Linked DNA regions of Homo sapiens. The protein of the gene in region 4 purifies or fractionates together with the protein of the main gene of each other region. This does not show direct contact. Each region holds a gene or a part of one and is shown on either strand. Other genes may lie near its edges. The genes, in order: SUPV3L1, ISCA1, DICER1 and ZMAT3.

Region 1 (4,485 bases), on a different chromosome or scaffold from region 4:
ATCATCCTTACAGTCCAACACAGGAAATATTTGTTTGGCATGTCTCAAGAAAAATGGGAATAAATCATCCGCATGAGCTGGAAAATAAAACACTGTATTAACATGTGCAATCTACATAAAATTCGTAACTAAATTTAGTGAAATCTTTTTTCTTAACAAGCTAAGTTGCGGGGGCACTGCCAGGGTAAAAAGAAAAGTCCTCTCTGGGCACAGTAGCTCACGTCAACAATCCCACCACTTTGGAAAGCTGACCTGGAAGGATGGCTTGAGCCCAGGAGGTTGAGGCTACACACTGAGCTGAGACTGAGCCACTGCACTCCAGAGCCTGGGTGACAGAGTGAGACCGTGTCACAAAAAAAAAAAAAAAAAAAAAAAAAGGAAGAAAAGAAAAAAAAAAGTAGAAAAGTCCTGAGGTTACAGGCCTTATCCTTTTCTGGGATCCTGTTTTGTCTTACTTTTTCCTTTTAATTTATATTTTCAGGAAATTGGCTAGCAACCACCACGTCCTACTCCTTTAGTACAAACAGGCAAAGATTAGCATTGGCAAAAGTTAAATTAAAAATAAAGAACCTAGACATGTACATTACAGAGATGAAGGCGCAAACATTTTTTAAACTTCGAAAACCACAGACAGGCAAAAACATGTGTTTGTTCCTCAGCAAGAATTCTCCACATCTTAGTGGCTCTGAGAGGAGGCTGGGGCATGTCCCATTCTGCGTTGTATCCTCAGTGCTGGGCACAAGGTACAGGTCTAAGAGTCAAATACATAACCAAAGCCAAACTGCCTGTGGGAATGAAACTATGATATTTTGACTTTTTTTTTTTCTTTTATAGCAAGAACTTTGTCCTGATATGAGGGAGAAGGAAGCCAGTGGCAAAAACAGATGGAATCTGCTATGCACTAATTCCAACTTGTGTGAGAGCTTATTTCACTGGGCCCCAGTCTTCCTCCAGTCTAAGACATATGGGTGATGTAATAACCAGCTCAGGGACCCAATATAAAAGCAAACAACCTAGAAGTCATCCTGTGAAAGCACTGAATTATTTACAGAGGATGTTACCAGACCCACTCTAAACCAAATAAGCCCTTCTAGAGAAATGAGCATGAAGTATGAGAAGAAATAGAAGGTATGTTCAATAGGATTTTAAAAAGTCTCTAAACACTTGCCTGCACCGAAGCAAATATCATTCAAAACAATGTGAATGTCCACATCCAGGGAATGAGACTGCATAATATAATTTCTAAAGCTTATGAAAGCTTGGTGGAAGAGACGAGCTGTAGAAACACAAAATGAAAAGATGTAAGGTGTAGTTCTCATTTTAAAAAGCACACAGACACACCACACCAAACTCATCAAAGAGTCTTTTTTTTTCTTTTTTTTTTTTTTTTTTTGGCAGTACAGCTGGTTTATTATGATCTGGGCTAAAACTGAAGTCCTAGCACAGCATGAAGGAAGGCCGCAGCTGCAGCTCCTCTGCCGTGCAGTATGGCTCACCAGGTGAGCCTCGCCAGTCTCCCACTCAGCCAGAAGCAAAGAGCAGGGACGTGTCTCCAGACTACAACAGCCAGGTCACATGAGGGGTCGTACAGTCCTGACCAAGCTGTACCGTAAGAGGTAATAAAATACCTCTATGAAGATGTTTTGGGCCTTACCATCAAGTCCATAATCAGCACCCAGTTTCTGAATTTCTTTCCTCTTGTAAAATTTGTCTAAGACCTTCTTTACTTCATCTAGAAGAGAGATGTCAAAATTTAACGTTTCCTTATCTTAGATAAATGCTGAAAAAAAGCAAAAGAAACTTGAAGCAATAACACTAAAGGCAGCAGTCTAATGAGTGTTGCAAGAACTAGAAGGTTTTAGTCGATCCTTCTTTATGAATTCATATGCGATGGGAGTGTTAAGAAAAATGATCGAGTTGGCCGGGCACGGTGGCTCACGCCTGTAATCCCAGCACTTTGGGAGGCTGAGGTGGGCGGATCACGAGGTCAGGAGATAGAGACCATCCTGGCTAACATGGTGAAACCCCGTCTCTACTAAAAATACAAAAATTAGCTGGGCCTGTTATTGGGCGCCTGTAGTCCCAGCTACCCAGGAGGCTGAGGCAGGAGAATGGCATGAACCCGGGAGGCGGAGCTTGCAGTGAGCCGAGATGGGCCCACTGCACTCCAGCCTAGGAGACAGAGCGAGTCTCCGTCTCAAAAAAAAAAAAAAAGAGAAAAATGATCGAGTCAAATAATGCAGCACCCTGTTATACCATAGAGGAATGAGCAATGCACTCTGGGATGAGAGGCAGCCTCAAGCCTTCACCAGGCCACTTATAGGTAGAGAGCCACACTGTCATTCACTTATAACGATTCTGCACATCCAAACAGTGAGCAGCTAAAACACATCCAGAAAGACAACCAATATAGCAAGGACCAGATCCTCATGCTTAAGGAAGCCACGCTGATGTTAAGTTTGAGGATGATGATTTCAGGGATAAAAGATTACACTTGTTTTGTGCTAGATGGCATAACTAAAGTCAGTGGGAGCAGATTTCAGTGGAATTTATACAAGAACTTCCTAACAATTAGAACAGTGAAAAGTGAGAGCTCCTTGCCAATGGAATTACTCAAGCAAGGGTTAGATGACTGTCAAGGGTGACGGCAGAGAAATGTCTATGCTATTGGGAGATAACATGCCACTATGAATCAATAATCTTAGAGGTAAAAGTATTTTAAACTAATCAAGCTGAGATTGTATTATGGTTGTATATGTTAAAATACTACAGCATTATTCAATAAACATTTTACTGACTCAGTCACACACTATGTATTTCTAGGAGGAGAAGCCACAATGAGGACACAGCCTTTACCCATGAAATTCAGAAAGGCCAAGTGACCTGTATTTTTACCTTTCACAAATGTGCCAACCACATTTTCACACAGTCCAACACACACAACACTCATTGAAGAAATCAAGCCTGAACAAAGCATTCCACTAATAAAACTGTTTGACAGAATGAGGAAATTTCAGAATCACTAGATCTGCCCACAATTAAATATGAGATACACATACACACACAGTGTGTGTGTGTGTGTGTGTGTGTGTGTGTGTGTGTATTTATATTTCAGATCACAGGCAGATTTCTGGGTCTCTGTTACTTTGTGCCGGGTAGGAACAACAGTTTCTTTTTTTCTTGGAGACAGTGTTTCACTCTTGTTGCCCAGGCTGGAGGGCAATGGCGCGATCTCAGCTCACTGCAACCTCCGCCTTTCGGGCTCAAGAGATTCTCCTGCCTCAGCCTCCCAAGTAGCTGGGATTACAGGCATGCATCACCATGCACCATGCCCGACTAATTTTGTATTTTTAGTAGAGACAGGGTTTCTCCATGTTGGTCAGGCCGGTCTCGAACTCCTGACCTCAGGTGATCTGCCAGCCTCAGCCTCCCAAAGTGCTGGGATTACAGGCGTGAGCCACTGCACCTGGCCAACAGTTTCTTGGTATCAAGGGTAGAAAAACCAATGACAAATAAAAGATTGGAAAAAGGCACATGCCATCATTGCTTGGGAAAATTCTGCTGACCTATAAACTCGATACAAACTAAAGACAGATCACATTTATTTAGAATTAACCTATTTTCTGTGACTAATACTACGGTGTTATATAAGATTCATGCTGCTTTACTCAAATTAAAATGCTTCCAAAATGTGAAATTTCTCATTATGCTAAGTAAAAGAAACCAGTTACAAAAGACCAATACTATATGACACTATAAATATGAAATACACAAAACAGGCAAATCAACAGACAGAATGTGGATTAGTGGTTATCTGGAGCTAAAAAAAAAAAAAAGACACTGGGGACTGGGGAACTAGAGAGTGACTTGCTAACAGATATCAGGTTTCTTTTTAGGGTGATAAAAATGTTCTAAAATGAAATTATGGTGATGATTGTACAATCCTGCAAATACACTAAAACCCAGTGAATTATACACTTTTAAAGGGTGAGCTTTCTAGTATGTAAATTAAAATTGTATCTTTCTTTTTTTATTTGAGACAGGGTCTCACTCTTGTCACCCAGGCTGGAGTGTGGTGGTGCAATCTCGGCTCACTGCAACCTCTACTACTACCCAAGCTCAAGCAACCCTCCCACCTCAGCCTCCCAAGTAGCTGGAACTACAGGCACACACCATCATGCCTGGCTAATTTCTGTATTTTTTGTAGAGATGGAGTTTTGCCATGTTGCCCAAGCTCGTCTTGAGCTCCTGGGCTCAAGCGATCCACCCTCCTGGGCCTCCCAAAGTGCTGGGATTGCAGGCACGAGACACTGCGCCCAGCCTAGTCTTTTTAAAAGAACATTCTGACTGCAGGTAGAGAATAGAATGAAGGGATCAAAGGCATATGAGGAGACACATAAGGGGCTATATGTGCAGTCCAGTCAAAAGATGGAAGCTGGCAATTTAGACTAAGCTGGTTGCAGTGGAGAATGAGGGAAATGAATG
Region 2 (4,485 bases), on a different chromosome or scaffold from region 4:
TCACTTAGAACAGGGGTCCCCAGTCCCTGCGCTACAGACTGGTACTGGTCCATGGCCTGTTAGGAACAGGGCCTCACAGCAGGAGGTGAGAGCAGCAGGCAAGCCAAGCATTACCACCTAAGCGAGCTCCACCTCCTGTCAGATCATCAGGGGCATTAGATTCTCATAGGAGCACAAACCCTAGTCTGAACTGCAGGTGTGAGGGGCTAGTTTGTGCACTCCTTATGAGAATGATGCCTGATGATCTGTCACTGTCTCTCATCACCCCTAGATGGGGCCATCTAGTTGCAGAAAAACAAGCTCAGGGCTCCCACTGATTGTATATTTTGATGAGTTATATAATTATTTCATTATATATTACAATGTAATAATAGAAATAAAGTGCACAATAAATGTAATGCATTTGAATCATTCAGAAACCATTCCCCTTATCCGTGGAAAAATTGTCTTCCACGAAACCAGTCCTTGATGCCAAAAACATTTGGGACCACTGCTTTAGAAGGGTAATGAGCACTTTAAAAAATAATAACTATTTCTGTAACTATTTAAAGTTGGTATTCTGTGACTCAAAAAACAAAAACAAAACCATAATCCTGCTCTTCCCTGTTTTCTCCTTCCACCCTGTGTGCTACTTCCTGCGTTGGAGGACTGCATGCCTCCTTTTCTGACAGAACCATGGGAAACCATGGGCCTTTAGAGGCCCACCTACTGGTAGTGGTTTGTTTTTTTACAGTGACATGTAATAAGAAATGTATATACACAGATACTATATATTAATAACTGAATTAAAAGTTTTACTAAACAACATTCACGTTTTTAAGTGCAGTGCATTGTTTTCTATTTAAAATGTTTAAGACATGTTGGTCTTCACATTCCAAATTGCTTTCATGCCCTTCTAAACTGGGTCTGTACTGTGTTTAAGCATGCTCATCTAGCTGAGCCCCAACCCCGACAGGGCAGGAGAGCACACTCTAGGGCCATCCATTGGGCTGGCTCTTCCAGGTGTCAGTCCTGGCCTCAGTTTACTACCAAGTCTTAGGTCGTAATATCCAGACTTTGAGACTTCACAAGCAGTCTCAAAGACTTTACTGTACAGTAAAATGTCAGTACAAGGGACTGGAGGGCCTGCAGAGCACTGCCAGCTAGAGGAGCTGATAAAGTAGGAAGGACGCACATAATGTCTTCATTATGATGTACTCTCATAATCATAATAATACTTGGTATTTTTGTGCCTGGCACTGTCCTGAATGCTTTCCATGAGTTTAAATATTTAATCCTCACAAGAATCAGGAGGAGGAGGAACTGTTATCCCTGTTTCACCAGTAAGGGAATAGAAGTCAGAGAAGCCACTTAGGGTGACTGCCCTGGAGGCACAGCTAGGAAGTGGGCCAGGAATGTCGGGGAACAGTCTCCTTCCCAAAGAAGTGGGGTTGGCAACACCGACCTATTTCACACAAACTGTGATGTTTTTCTCATTTTGAGGCCCGCTGAGCTATGTTAAAACAGCATTTCTCTGGGAAACAGCTCCTCCTTGTTCTTATTTCTGTCATTGACTAGCTTAGTTTTGTTCATCTAGATCTCCTGAGATGTTGGTTTAATCCACGTTGAAAAAAATCTATGTGAGCATTTGGTGGGACTGGTGCAAGAAGCACACCCTGGGTTATTTTATGCTGGTAACACTGTTTCCTCAAGCTATGCATTTTGATGGATTAGAAATGGATTGTGAGTAAGAAAAAAAAAAGCAGTAGGATTAATAATCAACAGGAAAAACACCTGAAGGTTGGCCTTCCCAGTGAGATACTTGATTCCTTCATTGGCTCTTTGTCGTAGGCAACATGCTGGTTCCTGGGCATAGAGTTGGTGCACAAAATAGATGCTGCCCAGAAAAATAGCATTTGTAATGTGAGTGAATAGCACCATAGAGAGAAGGACAGGGAACCAACCTGGACTGAGGAGCAAGATTAAAAGGATGTTGCTAGCAGATTTTTTTTTTAAATAAAGAGGATATTTTGAATTAGGTATAGTTTATGTGTTTCTATATAAAGTCCATAAGGTACCCTGGCAAGAATGGAACATAAATTTGTCACATGAATTTGCTAAAGACAGACTTACGAAGACTGATAAATATGAGGCTTTGAATAACAAGTTTTGTAGCTAAAAACATCATTTTCTTTTTTCAGACACCTTCAGCAGTAAACAAGATAAAACAACTTCTTAAAGATAAGCCTGAGCATGTAAGTAAAACCAGTTAATTATTCAGTAAAAAACTGAAGCTGCATTTTCAGAATGAATTTATCCCATGATATACAGTATTATTTCATTTAGGGGTTTTTATTTAAAATGTAAAATATACTCAGGATTTTTAAAAAATTCAAATAATACAAAAGGGTATTTAACTAAAAGGAAGTCATTCTTTCAACCTGACTCTTCGTCGTCATTCTTCCTTCCAAGAAGCAATCTCTTTGGTATCCTTCCAGGGATAATGTATACATTTGAAGCGGCTAGACCTGATTTTCTCAGCCTCCTCACAGTTGACACTTTAGGGCAGATTGTAGAATGTTTGACAGCATCTGTGGCCTCTGTCCATTAGATACCAGTAGTACCCCCTCTTTGCCTCAACCAAAGAATCCACATATGTGGAACCCACCGATACGGAGAGGTGACTGTATAGAGTAAAAGTATGGTGAGTACTATTTCACCAGCAGTTCCTGATTCCACAAAGCTTTGGTTGTCACAACCAAAAATGTCTCCCTGAGGGCAACCACTGGCCTAGACTGGGCTTGTTATTCCTGTGTATATCTCTTCCTACCATAAATTTTTTTGTTACACTTTGCTTTTTACCCTTAATAATGGCTTGAAGATCTTTCCATGTCATTATGTAATGATCTGCCTCCCTTTCTTGGCTGCATGTAGAGTATATTCCATTGAACAAGTTTGAGTTCTTTAACCAGTCCCCATATTAAAGGGTCGTTTTCATTCAGTGCTGCCGCAAACACCATTCAGCAACTATTTAGTGTCTGCAGTGTGCCAGGCTCATTGTTCTAGAACTGTAAGCATGGCTTAGTCCACCTACATAGGATCCATTCCTAGATACAGAATTGTTGAGTTAGGGATGTGTGTATCATCTTAATTGTACATTGTTAGTTGCCGATGGAATGCTGTAAATCATTTCAAGTAATGGATTGCAATATTTAATAATTAGACGGTGGGGTGATTTCTGGTTTCTGTTGTTAACCTACTACATTACAATGTAATGGAAGTTCTCAAACCTACCTTTTAAAATTATTAAATTTCAAAGGATATCAGTGTTCTGATTCAATTTGGATAGACCGATGAGTAGACTACAAATTGGCCTAATGAAACAAGAATTCGGCTTTGTAGAATCAGGAACTGCTGGTGAAATAGTACTTATGATACTTTTGCTGTATACAGTCACCTCTCCGTATCTGTGGGTTCCGCATACGTGGATTCAATCAACCATAGGTCAGAAATATTTGGGAAAAAAATAGAAGGTTGCATCTGTATTAAACATGTACAGACTTTCATTCTCTAAACAATACAGTATAACAACTGTTTATGTAGCATTACATTGTTACAGGTATTCAAGTCCTCCAGAAGTTATTTAAAGTACAGGGGAAGATGTATATAGGTTATATACAAATGCAGTGCCATTTGCATAAGGGACTTGAGTATCTGCAGATTTTTGTATACTCAGTTAGTCCTGGAACCAATTTCCCATGCATACTAAGGGATGACTGTATTTAAATGAAAAATCAGCTCAGCTCTAAGACAGAGAACTTAGGTAGATACTGTTTGAAAATTGCATTAATGTAAACATTGATACTTTTAAAGTGCTGTTTGGTCACTTTTTTAAACTTCTTTTGTCTGTATTGACTGCAGTCTTTTGCTTTCTGGTATTTGAGACTGTACACAAGTCTGCACTATAATTCAGATCCCATGTAGAGGTAGGATTGCCAGATGGTGGACTATGAACCCTGGTGAATCCTAACCATAAGGAAACATTCAGAGGATATCTCACAGAACAAGGTAGAGCAAAGACATTTTAAATAAAGTCCCAGGCTGGACGGGGTGGCTCCTGCCTTGTAATCCCAATGCTTTGAGAGGCCGAGGTGGAAGCGTTATTTGAGTCCACGAGTTTGAGACCAGTCTGGGCTACATAGTGAGACCCTGTCCTACAAAAAATAAGAGAAAGTCCATTTTGGTACGAGGAGGCTACTGTCACTTTATTAGTATAATTGTTTAATCTGTACTACTTTAAAACCAAGTTTATATTTTCACTTCTTTTTCAGGTAGGTGTAAAAGTTGGTGTCCGAACCAGGGGCTGTAATGGCCTTTCTTATACTCTAGAATATACAAAGACAAAAGGAGATTCTGATGAAGAAGTTATTCAAGATGGTGAGTTTTTAACAAACATTTTTTGGGCACATTGTTTTGCCTAAAATTATTAGCCTTGCACAGCACAAA
Region 3 (4,485 bases), on a different chromosome or scaffold from region 4:
GAGGGCTTGAGAACAATATTTTACAGACAAGTTTTCGAGGAGGATTATCTATACTGGTTCAGCTATCTTAGTTGGTCTCTGTAGTAGTGATACCAAATGTAACAGTGCCTTAAACGTCTCTTAACTTTCCCTAAATAACACATTCTTCATCTGCTATGCATGAATTAACACATCATCCTTGAAATCATACTTCAATTCAGTGTATAAAGCCAAGTGTTTTGTAAAATAAACCTCAAGTTAGGTTTTATGTTTCCTTATGATTAGATTCAGGTTTCAGCTGGGCACAGTGGCTCACTCCTGTAATCTCAGCACTTTAGGAGGCCAAGGCAGGAGGATCTCTAGAACCTAAGAGTTTGAGGTAGCAGTGAGCTATAATTGTGCCACTGCACTCCAGTCTGGGCAACAGAGCGAGACTCTGTTCCCCTCTTTCCCCCGGCAAAAATAGATTCAAGTTTTGTACTTTCAGTAGGAAAACTACATTAGGTATGTGTTGTCAGTTTGTCCTAATACTGGTGATCTTAGCTTTGTCACTTGGATTAAAGGGGTATCTATCTGGTTTTTCCACTGAATAAAAATACTAGTTTTCATTTGTAATTAGTAGGTAATCTGCAGAAAAGCTTTCAGGCTATGTAAATATTCTTTAGTAACCTTCACCCAATGGTTTTAGCATCCATTAATGATCCTTGCTTCAATCACTAATGTGATGGTTAAAAATGGTGACTTTTCTGTCATTCCTTCTACATTTATTAGTTGACATTCAGTAGAGTTTCGCCTGAATTTTAAACCTAACAAAATACGATTTCTTTTTTGTTGTTGTTAATGCTGAGTCTTGCTCTGTCTCTCAGGCTGGGGTGCAGTGGCGTGATCTTAGCTTACTGCAACCTCTGGCTCCTGGGTTCAAGCGATTCTCCTGTGTCAGCCTCCTGAGTAGCTGGGACTACAGGTGCAAGCCACTATATTGAGCTAATTTTTGTATTTTTTAAGTGGAGACGGGGTTTCACCATGTTAGCCAAGCTGGTCTCGAACTCCTGACCTCAAGTGATTCACCTGTCTCTGCCTCCCAAAGTGCTGGGATTGCAGGCATGAGCCACCGTGCCCGGCCTACAAAATACAGTTTGTAAAATGAGAAACTAAGTTGAGAAATAAGACTGTCTTGAGTTGGGTTTTCCCAGTTGCACCTGTAACTTTAAGAACTTTAAAATTGTTTCTGAAACATCTTCAAGGTTGGAGTCAGATTAGTTTGCATTAATATGGAAGAGAATTTTGTAGTGGTTGGAAGTTAACTGAGAAAACTAGGATGGGTATAGTCAGATGATACCAAAATTATCATTGCACTAACTGATACCTCTCTAGCTTTGACAGTTTCTAGTTAGCCTCGAATTATTCTTTTGGACTTGGGTGCCAAGATCGAGGATGTTAAGCTTGTTGAAATAATTTGGGTTGTTTAAAGTCTTTTAATTTAAAAGTGTCTAATTTGAGTTTTATATTTGACCTATAAAAAGCTGCTTTAATTCAATAGTTAAGATCAATAAAGCTTATTCTCAACATCGAATTAATTAATAAAAAATTATTCATGGATATTTACTTTCCTACATTCCAAACTACCTAGTCATTACAAATTTACAGTAACGTGAAAATCAAACAAATCATGAACTATGTAATATGAATGTGAGTATAGTATGAGATTATCTTTCAAAGATCTTAATACTCTTGAGGGAGATGGCAATAACAGCTAATATATGGGGCAGTAATATAATGAAGCCCGTGATGATTTGGGTGTTGTAGCTAGCCCATGTGTGCTAAATGAGAGGGGAGGGGACTAAAGTGATAGAGGTTTTTAGGGAAAGTTGTGGGGTGGGGTTCGTGAGAGGTGGCGAACTCTGTTGGTACACACTTGTTTTGGTGTTACGGGAAAGGCAGATAACATGAGATGTTGCGCAGAAGCTATGATGATGTAGTGCGTCACACTCTTGCCTGGACCTTTTAATATATTTGCTTTCCTGTCTCAATAAACATCCATCTTAACTCAGTAGTCTCTTATGTTCATTTTGTCTCTGGATTGACCTCCCTTTAGTATTTAAGTATTCATGTTATATATCTTAAAACAGCTTGACAAAGAGAAAATTGTGGCTCCTTTTTCCCAATGGATGCTCTTTCTTGGTGTAAAGGTAGAGGGTAGTCGTGAATTGAATAAAATTCTAGCACTCGTTGCACAGTGTTAAGAGTAAAGTATGTGCCTGTAGTCTCAGCTGCTCAGGAGGCTGAGATGGCAGGATCACTTGAGCCCAGGAGTTCAAGGCTGTAATGTGCTCTGATGGTGCCTGTAAATAGACAGAGTGAGACCCTGTCTCCAAATAAAAAATAAAAAAAAAGAGTAAAGTACAGAAACTTGGAATCAAATATGAACCTTAAAACTCACCTTGAAAGCTAGTGATGTGTTAAGTATTTATGTCTCTTGAAACAAAACTGTAGGACAAATGTCATTATAGGTAACTTGAAGGGGAGGGGTGGGTATCTGTGCTGTTTTGATGTGTTGAAATGTCATCTTTCTGAGAAGTACTCCAAGAAGTAAGCGGACCTTTGGCTTGCAGCCTGGAGACACTTCTTATATGGAGATCTTTGATGGGTGGAATTTGTTAAGATGGTATTTGACCTGTGTTCCACTTCAATTTTGGACCAATCTAATTTTAGGCATGATTATATTGAAATCTAAACATAACATATTTATGTTAGAGATTTAGAGAAACCCAGAAATTTATTTGGTTCAGATACAGTAATGCATGAAAAGAAGGCTAATGAATTTGTGGTTTAAATTGTAGGTACTATGATACTGTAAAATATATATTTGGTCTGTCCTCTACCCTATTCTTAGGCATACAAGGCTTGAAATCCTTAGAATCTCCAAAGTGATGTGTTTTTGTATGCTAATGATCGACTGGTGGCCGGTAGCTCCTGGTAGCTTCAAAATGGGGGCTGGTTACTGGGAAGACTAAGGCATGATTAGAGGTTTGGACTCAGACCCACCCTCCAACCTCTGGGGAGGGAAGAGGGGCTGAAGGTTAATCATGCCCAGGTAATGAGTCTTCATAAAAACCCTGAAGGACAGAGTTTGGAAAGCTTCTGGATAGTTGAACACATGGAGGTTCCTGGAGGGCAGTTTGCTCTGGGAGGGCTTGGAAGCTCTATACCCCTTCTCCATACCTAACCCTGTGCATGTCTTCATCTGGATCTTTGTAATATCCTTTACCTAATTAATTTACTTATTTTTATTGAGATGGACTCTCGCTGTGTTGACCAGGCCGGTCTCGAACTGCTGGCCTCAAGCGATCCTCCCATCTTGGCCTTCCAAAGTGCTAGGATTACAGGCGTGTGCCACTGCACCCAGCCTGTAATATCCTTTATAATAAACTGGTAAACATAAGTAAGTTTTTCCCCAAGGACTGTGAGCTGGTCTAGCAAGTTAAATCCCAGGAGGGCGTTGTGGGAACCCCAGTTAACTGATTGGTCGGGAGCACGGGCAAAAAATAACCTGAGGTTTGCAATTGACACGGAAGGGTGGGGGAGGTCTTGAGGACTGGAGCCCTCAACCTGTGGGATCTGATGCTATCTCCAGGTAGATAATGTTGGAATTCAGTCATTAATAGAAGACACCCAGCTGGTGTCCGCTGCAGAATTGATGGCTTGCTTGTTGTTGGGGAGAAACCCCACACATTTGGTCACAGAAATTTTATGTGGTGTGTGAGAACAAAGGAAAAACAGTTTGTGTGTGTTTTTTCCCACTCAGATATTCAGGTAAATGTTACCACATTTTGTGCCTTAACGGGGGAGGTTTTTACTCATTAATTCATTCATTCTAGAGACAGGGTCTTACTCTGGAGTGCAGTGGTGTGATCATGGCTCACTGCAGCCCCCCAGGCTCAGGTGATTCTTCCGCCTCAGCCTCCTGAGGAGTTGGGACTACAGGCACATGCCACCACACCTGGCTAATTTTTATATTTTTAGTAGAGATGGGGTTTTGCCATGTTTCCCAGGTTGGTCTCAGAATTCCTGGGCTCACGTGATCTGCCCACCTTGGCCTCCCAAATTGCTGGGATTATGGGTGTGAACCACTGCACACGGCTGGGAGGATGTTTTCAATACCTAAAACAGAATTGTATGTCTCTAGCTTATCGTCACACAAATCATCCACAGTTTGAAAGTTTGTTTTCCAATTCCCAATTCTGTGTGTTCAAGTTGTAGGAAATTTAAAATGCTGAAAAGTTTAAAGGAAAAATACTCATCCAAGTAATTCATCATTAATTTTTGGGTAAACTAATTTTCTCTCACCTCCTTCCTCTCTTCCTTTTCCTTCTTATCCTTTCTCACTTCCTTTTCCTTCTTAGCCTTCCTCACTCCCTCCCTTTTTCCTTTCCTTTAGTTTTTAACTAAGACATAATTATAGTCTCACTGTAAATAAAAGTGTTCTACTTTTTCATTTAAAGCCAT
Region 4 (4,485 bases):
AGCTCACAGAGAACAGGCAAGTAACAAGTACAGGCAGCAGCTGAGTGGGGACTGAGGTGTCCCAGAGAAGGCAGGCCTCGCTAGAGGGCACAGTGCCTCTGAGCACTAACTAGCTAATTGCGTCCCATATAGGAATGTGGGCCAAGTGATGCCAGATCATCCTTTTTCAAGAGAAGCCATGAATCTCTTGATTTTTAAATGCTAACAACTAATTCGACTTAAAAAAATGAAAACAAAACTGTATATTCCAAACAGCACATCTGTGGCTGTATGTGGCCCACAGGCTGTTTGCCACCTCTGCTATACATTTGCTCAACTACTTAAATATTGCTAGTTGATCAGAAGGAACATATTTTATTTATTTCTGTCATACTTTAGGCTACTCCTAGAGTTCCCTGAAATTTTAGCTAGTTCTATAAGTGCTTTAAGAATTCTGCAAGATGATATTCTTTTATACACTCTTTTTGATATTGGTTGGTTGGAAGATATGTTTGCTAAGATTTTTAGCTGGTGGTCTTTTTTTTTTTTGAGTCACAGTCTTGCTCTGTCACCCAGGCTGGAGTGCAATGGCACGATCTCGGCTCACGACCACCTCTGCCTCCCCGGTTCAAGCGATTCTCCTGCCTCAGCCTCCTGAGTAGCTGGGATTACAGGCACTCGCCACCACACCTGGCTAATTTTTGTATTTTTAGTAGAGACGGGGTTTCACCATGTTGTCTTGAACAGGCTGGTCTCGAACTCCTGACCTCAGGTGATCTGCCCACCTTGGCCTCCCAAAATGCTGGGATTACAGGCGTGAGCCACCACACCTGGACAGCTCGTGGTGTTTTTGTCTGTGCATGATTATCATTAAGAGTGTTTAAGTGTAAGTGTGCCTGAGGGAAGGGGTCTGGACTAGGTGACATTTGATGTCCATTTCAGCCATGTGACTTTTAGATTTAGCCGTGGATGCAATGCTGTTAATGTTCACGGGCCAAAGGGATAGCAGTTGGAACTGTGCCAAGCAAAATAAAGCCAAATCTATAAAGCCATTCTCAGTGGAAGAGCACCGTGTTAACATGAATTAACAGGCAGGGGAAGTCTGCTAAATGAGGCCAAAGGAAAGAAGTCCCAAAGATGGGTTTGGAGAAGTAGAAGAAAGGGTCAGATTATGTTGTCATTTACATGTTATCTTGCTGAAGTCTGATTTTCAAGTGAGTTTTTTTTTCTGTTTTTTTGCTGTTGATTCAGATTTGAAGACCTTGCTTCTCATCACCCACTGGATTATGCCCCAGGCTTCCCTACCCAATGATCCTCTTGCAACACGCCGTGCTTCCTCCACCTAAGCAGCCCTCACCCTCGCCTCCTATGTCAGTGGCCACCAGGTCTACAGGAACCTTGCAGCTTCCACCACAGAAGCCTTTTGGGCAGGAGGCTTCCTTGCCTCTTGCAGGGGAAGAAGAGTTATCGAAGGGAGGGGAGCAAGACTGTGCCCTGGAGGAGCTATGTAAGCCCCTGTACTGCAAACTCTGCAATGTCACCTTGAACTCTGCACAGCAAGCCCAGGCTCATTATCAGGTAAAGGGAGAAAAGAAAACCAGGCATTGAGTAGGGTGAACATTTCAGGGCTCTGGCTATTTAGCAGTTGTCTCTCCAGATATGACTGTGCCTGGAATACCAAGATGGCTTAGAGAACAACTAACTATGAATTTGTTTGATTAAAAGCCTTATGTTTTTACTTTAAAAATAAGTATCACTTTTTGTAGACTGGATCTCAACCTGTTACACTAAGCTGTGTGGCATGCGATAGCTTACCAGTCTTTGTAGGCAAATGTAAATGATCTATGCTGGCATCTGAACCTGTAGTCTTAAGAAGAACAAGTATTTAAACCACTATTTACCAGCCTGGGTGACAGAGCGAGACTTTGTCTCAGACAAACAAAAAAACCCATGATGTACCGAACTCAATTCAGTGTAAAATTGTTTAGAAGCTAATATAATTTGCATCATTTCGAGGTGACCTCTGTGCATGACTCTTATGCTTTCCATTTTTGACTTCTAACTCTTATATATCCTATCACTGGTAAGGAAAACACAGGTATCTTTTTGTGGTGAGAATAAAATGACATTGCAATATTGAGCCCTATCCTTCATTCATAATAAACATACTCTGATTTATTTTAGCCCATTAGCGTAAACTAATACTGGTTTTTAAGATTTAAAGCTTTCACCTCCATGTTGAATAGCTAGTGGAAAGGACCATTTTAAAGGGTAATATTACCTAAGAACAAATGGAAAATTAAACTTTGGTTAGCAAGAGACGGTACAATATTTCTTTTTATTCTAGACATTTGTCTGTATAAAGTTAAATAATTTCCTTTTTTGGAGAAAAGAGACCTGGGAGATAATCAAGGACAAAACCCAGTGAATGATGTCTTCCCGGGTCATCACTGATTTGATTATTTATTATCTGCTTGAAAATCTCTAGTAATAAGAGAGTATGGTAGAAGACTGTTACACAGGTGTTTCTTCTGTTGTGCACTATAACTTTCTCCACTTTGTTTACTGTGGGTGTTAAGTCTTTTCTGTTTTGTTTTGATCCCAAAGACTGATTATTGTGTTGCTTTTTGATTGTATGTCGGAAGTATTTTGATGGTCAATTGTTTTCTCTGGTATTTAGGGGAAGACATAATATGTTGCCTCCTTTAAGTTCCCATTATGTGGTTTTGTTTTGCCCTCAGGTGCAGAGAGTTGAGTTAATTATATCTCGCAGCTCTTGACATGTGTCATCATTGGTTCCTAAAGGCCTCTTCTGGTTTTATTTTTACGTTTTCCCCCTTTCCCCAGTACGTACTCTCATCACCTTGCTGTCCAGTACAGTTGTTTGATACAGGGTCTTCCTTTGCCTGTCTTTACCATTCAAGCAGAGTCTGTTAGCATGATTAATCTCAACTCCAAGACTGTATTAGCTTTCTTCATTTATTCCTACGGAATGTTCAGTTTTATAGCCTAAGACTCACTTTGAAAAAAGAAGCCAGGGTTCTAAAGGTTTAATTATTAGCCATATAAAGCCCCTAACAAATCATTAACTTGGGGGCAAACCCACTTGTATGCTATACACATATATAATTATCTTTATTTATTTATTTTTTTTTGAGACAGAGTCTCGCTCTGTTGCCCAGGCTGGAGTGCAGTGGCGCGATCTTGGCTCACTGCAGCCCCTGTCTCCGGGGTTCAAGCGATTCTCATGCCTCACCCTCTCGAGTAGCTGGGATTACAGGCACACACCAGCACACCCAGCTAATTTTTGTATTTTTGGTAGAGATGGAGGTTTGCCATGTTGGCTAGATTCAGCCTCCCAAAGCGCTGGGATTACAGGCGTGAGTGACCTACCGCACCCAGCCTATAATTCCCTTTTAAGGAAGAGTTGTTTACTTTTATGAGGGAAAACTCTCGGGCAGTGTGTAATTTTAACATGTCCATGGATTATACATATACCTTATTTCTTTTTTTCTCCTAATAAAACTTTTTGACTTCATGGACTTTGAAAGGTGCTACTGATGATACATAGAGAAGATTCAGTTTGATGCAAGGTCTTTGGATTATAAGGCTAAAACTAGATAAGCAGAATCAACATTTGTTTTTTTCTTTTATTTTACATTTTTGCGTATGTTCTAAACTATGTAGTTGACAAGATTAGTAATTATACTTAATTTCAGTTTCCTCAGTGATACAGTGAATAAATAAATTAGAAAATATAAGAAAAGGGAAATACAATTTAGGTAAATTTCTCAAAAATCAGAATTTTTAAGTGGAAAGGTTGAAGGAGAACAGGATGTAATGGGACAATTTAAGCAGCTAAAAACCAGGGTAAAGATGGGAAAGAAAAGAGGCAAGCAAGTAATCAGAAAGTAGGAGCTTACAGAAAATGAAAAGTTTGGGTATAATAAAGTATATTGCTAAGACTTCAGAAGCAAAGATTCGAATGAGACTGATGTTATTGGTAACTCTTAAAGAGAGAAGGTTTTAACAGACAACTAAGGCAAAGCAGTTCATGTGTAAAAATACAGAGCAATTATGTTAGGGTAACATAGAAGAAAGGTAATCTTAGAAGTGAAATCTGGATTTCAATAAGATAGAAATGGTCAAGATGAGAGTGGATAGTGCAAAGTGTAGATCAGAATAATAAACAGAGTGTGAACATAACTCTAGAAGTGGGTGAGCTACCAAAGAAGGAAAGCGTAGAAATGTTAGCCAAAAAGATGCATCAGAGGGTGTACATGAATAAGCAGTAATAAAAGAAAGATTACTGAAGACAAGGCTAAGACCAGGCCAGGTGTGGTGCCTCACACCTGTAATTCTAGCACTTTGGGAGGCTGAGGCGGGAAGATAGTTTGCGTTCAGGAGTTCAAGACCAGCATGGACAGCATAACAAGACCCTGTCTCTACAAAAATACAAGGAAATTAGCTGGGCATAGTGGCAGACACTTGTAGTCCCAGCTACTC

The links.
Region 1: the proteins of ZMAT3 (region 4) and SUPV3L1 purify together in Homo sapiens (affinity purification with mass spectrometry; 2 studies listed by BioGRID and IntAct, with this or other methods). This does not show direct contact.
Region 2: the proteins of ZMAT3 (region 4) and ISCA1 purify together in Homo sapiens (affinity purification with mass spectrometry; 2 studies listed by BioGRID and IntAct, with this or other methods). This does not show direct contact.
Region 3: the proteins of ZMAT3 (region 4) and DICER1 purify together in Homo sapiens (affinity purification with mass spectrometry, with the first as the bait; one large-scale study listed by BioGRID). This does not show direct contact.

What each region holds. Positions count from the first base shown.
Region 1 is NC_000010.11:69,183,234-69,187,718, reverse strand, and holds part of SUPV3L1 (ATP-dependent RNA helicase SUPV3L1, mitochondrial), read right to left. Parts: intron 1,781-4,485; exon of another isoform or gene 1,733-1,780; coding exon 1,655-1,732; intron 1,277-1,654; coding exon 1,169-1,276; intron 326-1,168; coding exon of another isoform or gene 253-325; intron 78-252; coding exon 1-77. UniProt on the Homo sapiens protein: Major helicase player in mitochondrial RNA metabolism. Component of the mitochondrial degradosome (mtEXO) complex, that degrades 3' overhang double-stranded RNA with a 3'-to-5' directionality in an ATP-dependent manner.
Region 2 is NC_000009.12:86,271,938-86,276,422, reverse strand, and holds part of ISCA1 (iron-sulfur cluster assembly 1 homolog, mitochondrial precursor), read left to right. Parts: intron 1-2,180; coding exon 2,181-2,234; intron 2,235-4,310; coding exon 4,311-4,416; intron 4,417-4,485. UniProt on the Homo sapiens protein: Involved in the maturation of mitochondrial 4Fe-4S proteins functioning late in the iron-sulfur cluster assembly pathway. Probably involved in the binding of an intermediate of Fe/S cluster assembly.
Region 3 is NC_000014.9:95,146,819-95,151,303, reverse strand, and holds part of DICER1 (endoribonuclease Dicer), read left to right. Parts: intron 1-4,485. UniProt on the Homo sapiens protein: Double-stranded RNA (dsRNA) endoribonuclease playing a central role in short dsRNA-mediated post-transcriptional gene silencing.
Region 4 is NC_000003.12:179,064,555-179,069,039, reverse strand, and holds part of ZMAT3 (zinc finger matrin-type protein 3), read left to right. Parts: exon of another isoform or gene 1-16; intron 17-1,230; 5' UTR 1,231-1,287; coding exon 1,288-1,557; intron 1,558-4,485. UniProt on the Homo sapiens protein: Acts as a bona fide target gene of p53/TP53. May play a role in the TP53-dependent growth regulatory pathway. May contribute to TP53-mediated apoptosis by regulation of TP53 expression and translocation to the nucleus and nucleolus.